2 separate regions of the Homo sapiens genome follow, and region 1 is reported to be linked to region 2. The links are microRNA targets in miRTarBase. Many come from high-throughput screens and were not tested one by one. Region 2 holds a microRNA gene; the other region holds the end of a gene's coding sequence.
What was found. The annotated mature microRNA hsa-miR-3936 reads UAAGGGGUGUAUGGCAGAUGCA and lies in region 2 at 1,505-1,526, opposite strand. An mRNA with a match to its seed (bases 2 to 7 or 8) in the 3' UTR can be bound and repressed. Matches are read on the target gene's strand: a 7mer-m8 pairs with bases 2 to 8, a 7mer-A1 pairs with bases 2 to 7 and ends in A, and an 8mer does both.

Region 1: the mRNA of SMYD5 is a reported target of hsa-miR-3936. Seed matches in the 3' UTR shown: 7mer-m8 at 3,696-3,702 and 7mer-A1 at 2,854-2,860.

Annotation. Positions count from the first base shown.
Region 1 is chr2:73,225,601-73,229,988 of GRCh38, reverse strand. SMYD5 (SMYD family member 5) reads right to left here. Exons shown (of 13, transcript NM_006062.3): 12 at 4,288-4,358; 13 at 2,768-4,193. The coding sequence ends at 4,043. PRADC1 (protease associated domain containing 1) reads left to right here. Exons shown (of 5, transcript NM_032319.3): 3 at 419-528; 4 at 1,027-1,194; 5 at 1,415-1,979. The coding sequence ends at 1,535. Among named protein-coding and RNA genes, the nearest start is that of PRADC1, 5.4 kb to the left of the region's middle.
Region 2 is chr5:132,364,009-132,368,396 of GRCh38, forward strand. MIR3936 (microRNA 3936) reads right to left here and starts at 1,591; the gene lies at 1,482-1,591. MIR3936HG (MIR3936 host gene) reads right to left here. Exons shown (of 8, transcript NR_110997.1): 2 at 2,560-2,773; 3 at 927-1,019.

The DNA of each region.
Region 1 (4,388 bases), not on the chromosome of region 2:
CCATGAGCTGCAGCACAGAAAGGAAGCTCTTCCAGCTACTCCCCTGAGTATAATATAAACCTAGGCACCATGGAGGGACAAGTTGTCTTTTTAGGGGACATGAAGTGAAAAGCCAAGAGCACCAGCTTCCTCTGCCAGCTCTACCTGTGAACTATGTGACTTAAGGCACATCACTTCCTCTCTCTGGATCTACAACCAAGTCCCCTGCCTATCTCATAGAAGGGTAGGGTGGTGTAGGACAACCAGATAGGCCTTTGCGAGAATTAAGTAAAAATGTTTAAGTGTCTGGCGATACAGAAACCACTCCATGTTTCCTTCACACTTTATAAGGTGCCAATAAGATGGGATTGTCAGCCCAGTCCTAAAGCAGGTGTGTCTCATTACACTCTCACCTGTCCAAATGTTAAATGTTTTTCAGCACACAAGGTATGAGCAGATTCACCTTGTCCCCGCTGAACCTCCAGAGGCCTGCGGGGAACTCAGCAACGGTTTCTTCATCCAGGACCAGATTGCTCTGGTGGAGAGGGGGTAAGGAGTGGGCAGGCAGGACACGAGGAGTGGGCAGGCATACGGCAGATTCTGAGATTATTGGTAGTAGTGCTTTGAAAGAGCTGTTTTTGAAAATTTCATCTTTTTAAGCGTCTTTAAGAAATGTCTAGCCTGGGCAACATGGAGAAACCCTGTCTGTACAAAAAATACAAAAATTAGCTGGGCATGGTGGTGCACACCTGTGGTCCCAGCTACTCGAGGCTGAGGTGAGAGGATTGCTTGACCGCATGTTAAGGCTGCAGTGAGCCGAGATCACGTCACTGCACTCCAGCCTGGGCAACAGAGCAAAACCCAGTCTCCAAAAAAAAAGAAAAAGGAAAAAGAAATGTATTTAAATTATCCATGCTTTTAGCTATTTACTTATGAGCCTTTATAACAGATTCTTCATAGTCTGCCTTCTATACTCCCAGGGTGATGGTCTGGGGAAGGGGGAGCTAGGACCTGTCTTTCCTTTGGTCTTATCACCACCTCTTCCAGGGGCTGCTCCTTCCTCTCCAAGACTCGGGTGGTCCAGGAGCACGGCGGGCGGGCGGTGATCATCTCTGACAACGCAGTTGACAATGACAGCTTCTACGTGGAGATGATCCAGGACAGTACCCAGCGCACAGCTGACATCCCCGCCCTCTTCCTGCTCGGCCGAGACGGGTGAGGGCTCCTTGCCTCTGGCTTTATCAGCACCAGGCTGGGCGCCATGACTGGGTCAGGGGTAATCACCAGTCCCTTCTTGCAGGCCTCAACTTGGGGTGCTTCAGTTAGAGGGCAAAAAAAGATCTCGGGCTTTGGAACTCCCAGATTGATGGGGACAGTGGGGCATGATGGGGTACCAAGAAAGTGACCGTCACCACCTCTCTTCATGCCCTCCCAGCTACATGATCCGCCGCTCTCTGGAACAGCATGGGCTGCCATGGGCCATCATTTCCATCCCAGTCAATGTCACCAGCATCCCCACCTTTGAGCTGCTGCAACCGCCCTGGACCTTCTGGTAGAAGAGTTTGTCCCACATTCCAGCCATAAGTGACTCTGAGCTGGGAAGGGGAAACCCAGGAATTTTGCTACTTGGAATTTGGAGATAGCATCTGGGGACAAGTGGAGCCAGGTAGAGGAAAAGGGTTTGGGCGTTGCTAGGCTGAAAGGGAAGCCACACCACTGGCCTTCCCTTCCCCAGGGCCCCCAAGGGTGTCTCATGCTACAAGAAGAGGCAAGAGACAGGCCCCAGGGCTTCTGGCTAGAACCCGAAACAAAAGGAGCTGAAGGCAGGTGGCCTGAGAGCCATCTGTGACCTGTCACACTCACCTGGCTCCAGCCTCCCCTACCCAGGGTCTCTGCACAGTGACCTTCACAGCAGTTGTTGGAGTGGTTTAAAGAGCTGGTGTTTGGGGACTCAATAAACCCTCACTGACTTTTTAGCAATAAAGCTTCTCATCAGGGTTGCAACTGTGTCCTAGAATAAGAGCACACGGGTGGGCAGGACCTTCAAACTCACTCGTATCGTCCCATACTGTCGTTCTGAGGAAAGGAAACACCCACAGAGGACAGTGACTGGCCTAGGTCATTTGGGACCAGTGCTCAGACTGCTAGTCTTAGATCCCAGCACAGCTTCCTGCTAGGAGCCAAGGAAGCCCTGGGAAGCCAGAGTTCAGCCCCTCAGGAGAAGACTCATCTTAGAGCCTGGAACTGGGGGTCCAAACTGGACCTCAGGGCTAGGCATGGTGGCCCATGCCTGTAATCCCAGCACTTTGGGAGGCCGAGGTGGGAGGATCAGTTGAGGCCAAGAATTCAAGACCAGCCTTGGCAACAACATAGCAAGATCCCATCTCTACAGAAAAATTAAAAATTAGCTGGGTGTGGTGGTGTGAGCCTATAGTCCCAGCTACTCAGGAGGCGGAGGTGGGAGGATCACTTGGGCCCAGAAGTTCAAGGCTGTAGTGAGCTATGATTGCATTGCTGCATGCCAGCCTGGGTGACAAGGTGAGACCCTGTCTCAAAATTTAAAAACCACCCAAACTGGACCTCAGAGGACCCTTGCTCTTGGGCATTAGAACATTTGCATAGCAGGGTGTAAATAACAGTAGAGGTGAGCCCAAGCTGGTGAGCCTGGAGCTCCCATCTCCTACCATTACCTGGTCTAATTGGTATTCCTTTGCACCCACCTGTGCCTGCTGCACGCCCGGGGCAGCCTGCCCAGCCACTTGCCACAAAGCATTCCTGCAGAGGCCTCTCACCACTCACATTTTATTGAGAACAGTGGGCAGGGGGGCTGGGAGAGGAGTGCTGACCGTTGTGAAGGAGTAAGAACCCAATGGGTAAGGGGCCAGACAGGTTTCACCTGGCTCCATGGTCCAGGAAAGGGCCTGTGGGGTGGGCACCTGCCCTCTCTGGGATCCCTCAGCAGGAGAATGCAGCAGGCTCCTCCAGGAAAGGGAGGCATTGGGAGTGATGGGTTGTAATTCCCATAGCATCCAACCCAAGAGTGAGAGGGGTGGTGCTAATCTGGGGGTAGGAGGGGACAAGACAGGGCTACTCTCGAAGTATCTAGCCCAGCTCCTCGAGGTTTCTGGAAGACTTCAATGTTAGTCTGTGGAGACCCTAAAGATGGAGATTGAGGCCAGGAGAGCCCCTCACTGACCCATTTTAACTGGCCCCAGGAATACCAGAGCATCCTAATCTAAGGAGCGCAGGCCTGTCAAGCCCCAGGTCTCAGCCATGCTGCTGAGTGCTCATTGGGAAGCAGGTGTGAGAAAGGGTGATGACCCACTATGTGTCCCTCCTGAGGAAGGCAGAGGCCTTTTCCATACTCCATAAGGCCAGCCACTGTGCCAGGTCCTGAGAGGCAAGGCACGAGTCTGGGGGAGGGGTTAATCTCCACTTCCCCAGATGTCCAAATGGGGGTGTGGGTGGGGGAAGTAATCCCCCTGGTCCAGCATTCCCAGGAGACAGCCTCAGGGAAGGGGCTCAGGATGCCCAGATCCTCCTGCCCGCCTCTGCTTGCTGGGCCAGTGGTCAAGCAGTTGCCTTACCAGCCACAGCTGTGGTGGGGGGAGGTGAGGACGCCTCACCACCTCCCATCTCTGCTTCAATGAACTCGGTCTTTCTTTTACCCCTCAAAAGAAATCAACAGCAAGTTGAGAGGGGAGAAGCCTCAGGTGAAGGGGTGAGTATGGGCCGTGGGGCCGAGGGGAAGAAACACTGTTAGGCCCTGGCCCTGATTCCAGCCCCTCAAACCCTAGAGTGGAGGAACCTCAAGGGGAGGCCAGTTGTGAAAGGCTCAGTGCCAGTGCAGAGTCTGAGCCAACTCAGCAGCAGTGTCCAGGGCATGAGGTCTGGTGGGGGTTGGGGCCAGAGATCCAGGCTCTCTCCTACCCTCTAGCAGAGAGGGCTGGAATGGGGAAAGCAGGCAATGGGAGTGGGAAGTTCCCTCCAAGCCACTTCTCTGGGGGAAGAGCCCCCTTTTCTGGCAGGGTCTAGGGCAGGGCCCTTTCTGGGCAGGGCAACATCACACATCAGTCATCTCATCCCCCAGCTCTGCATCTTCTGGCTCTCCTTCCTCCTCCTCCTCCTCTTCCTCTTCCTCTTCTGAGGTCACATTGGGTTCATCAGCCTCTGCCAGGCATTTGGGACAGGAACAGACAAATAGATAGTTCTCCCTGCAGCGGTGGGGGATGGTGAGGGGGAAAAGTCAGGGAGCTATGGGTAGAGGACCCCAGAGCCCAGCTGCACAACCATGTCCCCAGCTGGCACCTGAGGATCTTGTGGCGGCTGTGGCGGCTGCGCTCCCGCTGACAGCAGTCCAAGTAGCTGATACAAATTTCCTGTAGGGCAGAGAAGTGCAGTCTGATGGT
Region 2 (4,388 bases):
ATGTCATATATATACATAAAAGTCTTTTGGGAAAACTCATATTTCTATATTGGCCCTCACTAATGTCTTTTCCATCTATTCTAGAATGCAATAACCAGTCTTTAAAATGCAAGCAGAATATTTCACATTTCATTTTTGCAGGTATCTCTGAGGGGAATGAATTTACATTTCTACTACCACAAATAGGATGGTCAAGTTTGTTGCAATGCAAAATTTTTTCTGTGGAATTCAAAAACTGTCCTGTACCTCTTGAAGCCGAATTGTGGGGTTTCACATTGGAAATTACACTCATCTAAAGAAACAGTCTGGACATTTAAGTCCTTAAACAGTTGTTCAAAGTATTTTATTACATACTTTTTCTAGTCTTCAGAATGTTTCAAGGTCCATTGTCTTCATGGCTAGTTACCTGTCTGTCCAGGCCAAACAAACTGGAGTTAAAATGCAGAATCACATAACAGCAGAAATGTGATTTCTCATTCTATTGTGCAATCCAACAGAATTGTGCCAAGTCTTGCTAGGCTGACGCTGCTCTACTCTGCCCAAATGCCAATATGCATTGGGGTGATGACATCCCACTTGGGATATTGTCTGATGACACAGACAGACTTCTCTGTTTCTCCACTCTTGGGTCATATAATTCAATGTTCTGGGGCTGAGGCAAATAATGTCTTACAGTGATTTTGGCAAGAAAAAAACAGCTATTTCAGATTTTGTTCAAGTTCCCCTAGTCATGTCAGACCCCATTGACTTCAGTAGGGATGGCACCATGTTCAAGAGGCTGAAGAAGAGACCTAGAACCAGAAACTGAGACATAAGGTTTATTGAGGGGACTTACAATACAGGGCAGTCCAGTGGCAGTGGGCTGGGCAGGAGAACCAAAACTCCTTGTAAAAAGCATGCAATTGGCCAGGCGTGGTGGCTCATACCTGTAATCCCAGCGCTTTGGGAGGCTGAGGCAGGTGGATCACCTGAAGTCAGGAGTTTGAGACCAGGCTGACCAACATGGGGAAACCCTGACTCTACTAAATACAAAAAATTAGCCGGGCCTGGTGGTGGGCACCTGTAATCCCAGCTACTTGGGAGGCTGAGACAGCAGAATCACTTGAACCCAGGAGGCGGAGGTTGCAGTGAGCCGAGATTGCACCATTGCACTCCAGCCTGGGCAACAAGAGCAAAAACTCTGTCTCAAAAAAACAAAAACAAACAAAAAACACCATGCAGTTTATATAACATTTTTACTTAACACCTTTCCCCTAGCAACCTCCACCAGGCAACCTTCATTTAACCTAAAACAAAGGGCTTTGATCGCCTCGTAGGGCCTGCATTCTACAGGATGGGCTGGGGGTGGGAGCAGTTCAGAAGTTCGTCATAGATAAGAAATGAAATATCTGGGTTGGCCACTCCCAGATTCCTTAGCTTGGAGCTCTGAACACACATTCTTCTTAGACCATAGGGTCATTCTTCAGGTATGCATAAGTTATTGCTGCCAAGTGCATCTGTCGGGTGCATCTGCCATACACCCCTTACCAGAAGCGTCCAAACACGGATTTGAGGGATCTACAGCAGACACTGGACAGATGCTCTGAATCATTCTCTACTCTGATGCTGAAGCTATAATATTGGACTAAGCTTGGGCCTTCTACTCTTTTCTTTCTTTCTTTTTTTTTTTTTTGAGACGGAGTCTTACTCTGTTGCCCAGGCTGGAGTGCAGTGGCGCGATCTCGGCTCACTGCAACCTCCACCTCCCAGGCTCAGGCAATCCTCTCACCTCAGCCTCCTGAGTAGCCGGGACTACAGGCGCGTGCCACAATTGGCTAATTTTTGTATTTTTAGTAGAGACAGGGTTTCACCATGTTCCTTAGGCTGGTCTCAAACTCCTGACCTCAGGTGATCCACCCTCCTCAGCCTCCCAAAATGCTGGGATTACAAGTATGAGCCACCGCACCCAGCCTATTCTTTTCTTAAAGGAGGAGGCCTTCCCTTCCTCAGGCAAGTAATTGCTGACTACTCCAGCCTACATAACGTCCAGACATATCCAAATCTGTGGAGAACACAAAGTTCTTAAGGTATTTATTTAGAGTCAATAATCAAAGTAAAACTAATAATTATAGCTAATATTTAGTTTGTAGTTAATATATGCTAGGAGCTCGAGCTAAGCACTACCATCCCAGGAAACTGAGGCTTAAAACACTTTTAAAATTTGCTCAAGCTCACAAGCTTGGAATTGAAGAAGAAAGCAATTGAATATTGGTCTTTCTTCTATCATACATCCAGAGGCTCTGCACTTAATCAATACAACATACTGTCTCTTATTGCACAAGTAACTACAAGGTTCATCTGTAAAATTCTATTCTGTAGAATAGAAGGGAAAACAAATTAAGGAATTACAGATGTTTATTCTTCTGAGCTTTAATTTAACGTATTGTTTGATTCAAATAATTTATATATTAGCTATCTATTGCCACATAACATAATACCTCAAAATTTACCATTTTAAAACAACCAACATTCATTATTTCTCAGAGTTTCTGAGGATCAGGAATCTGGGAGCCACTTAACTGAGTGGTTCTGGTCCAGAAGACTCTCATGAAGTTGCAGTCAAGCTGTCAGTAGTCATCTCGACACCCAACTGATGCTGAAGGAGCTACTTCCAAGCTCACTCAAGGTTGTTGGTGGGCCTCAGTTCCTCATTAAATGTTGGCTAGAGACTTCATTCCTTGACATCACATGGACCCCTCAAAGGGCTGCTTATAACATGACAGCTTGCTTGTCTCTGAGCAAGAGAAAGGGAAAAGAACACCCATGATGGACATCTTTTATAATGTAATTACCCAAGTGATATAAGTATCATCACTAATGCTGTATGCTTTTGGTCACATAGACCAATCCTGGTACAGGGATCATTCATTGGGTGCCATCTTGGAGGCAAGCTACCACATCTGCCAGGGTATGAATGCATTTAATCTAAAGTTCTAGCCCTGAACTGTAGGGTTATCTACCATATAAATCAGTTTTACATTTTTTAATATGTAAAATAGGAACATCCCAATTCAGAATATTGCAGGATAAAGGGCCTCAGGTAACTGATTAAGATTCTAAGCTCTCTTTCTCTTTTAAAAGATGAAATTTAAGGCTGGGTATGGTGGCTCCTACCTATAATCCCAGTACTTTGGGAGGCCAAGACGGGGGGATCACTTGAGGTCAGGAATTTGAGACCAGCTTGGCCAAAATGGCAAAACCCTGTCTCTACCAAAAATACAAAAAAAATAGCTGGGTGTAGCGGCGCGTGGCTGTAGTCCCAGGCACTTGGAAGGCTCAGGTGGGAGGATTGCTTGAGCCCAGGAGGTTGAGGCTGCAGTGAGCCAAGACCACCTCACTGCACTCCAGCCTGGGTGACAGAAGGAGACCCTGTCTCAAAAAAAAAATGCAATTTAAATAGTAATGGCATTCAGATAGTAATCACAGTGCACCTGGAACTGGACGGCACCATCTTAGGTTGCTCTCTGCTTTGCGCATGTGGACAAGCCATCTATGACAAATAGTTTCTTTTCTTCCTAAGGATATGCAGCTTCTTTTGTAGTATACTGCATTGTTTTCAGTCCCTTTCAGGAATGTTATCTGATGCCCAACTGATATTTCTCAAATGTTAAAATAAGACTTCTTCATCTTGTTTGGTCTGGACAGAGGTCAACATTCTTCTCATAAAAGCTTTCATTTCTTTTGAAGCATTAAAATAATATTTTAGCACACAAAAAAGGAGTTTATTTTCAAGAAGCTTTGCTTTCTTTTTCAGTTAGTTCTAGATAAGAACTATAACTTCACATAAGATGTTAGAAGGATTTAAGTACATTGCTGAAGGTATAACCATCCATCTTCAGGAAGTAAGAATAGTGAATAGTAAGTATAAAGAAACAAACAAGTCCTGTGATAACATCTTTATCATAATTTTTTTAAGTCTATTATGCTTTATGCAAATGTTTAGATTTCCTTGTTAAAAATCTGCTGGCCAGGTTAGGTTCCCTTTCTGTAGCTTTATTTTCAACTCATAATATAGTGACTATTAAATATTCTTTACTCAACACATTATATTGTAAAAATATACACTTAGTTCTGTTTCTATCACTAAGCCACTACTATTTTAAAAAGGAATATCTTGCATTGTTAAGTTTAGCAGCCCAAATTCTTAAAGGCCTTAGGAATGGTGCTGTCCAATAAGATAACCAATAGCTACATGTGGCTACTGAGCACTTAAAAAATGAGTCTGGCCAGGCATAGTGGCTCACGTCTGTAATTCAGCATTTTGGGAGGCTGAGGTGGGAGGATTGCTTAAACCCAGGAGTCTGAGACCAGCCTGGGCAACACAGGGATGCCTTGTCTCTGTAAAATAA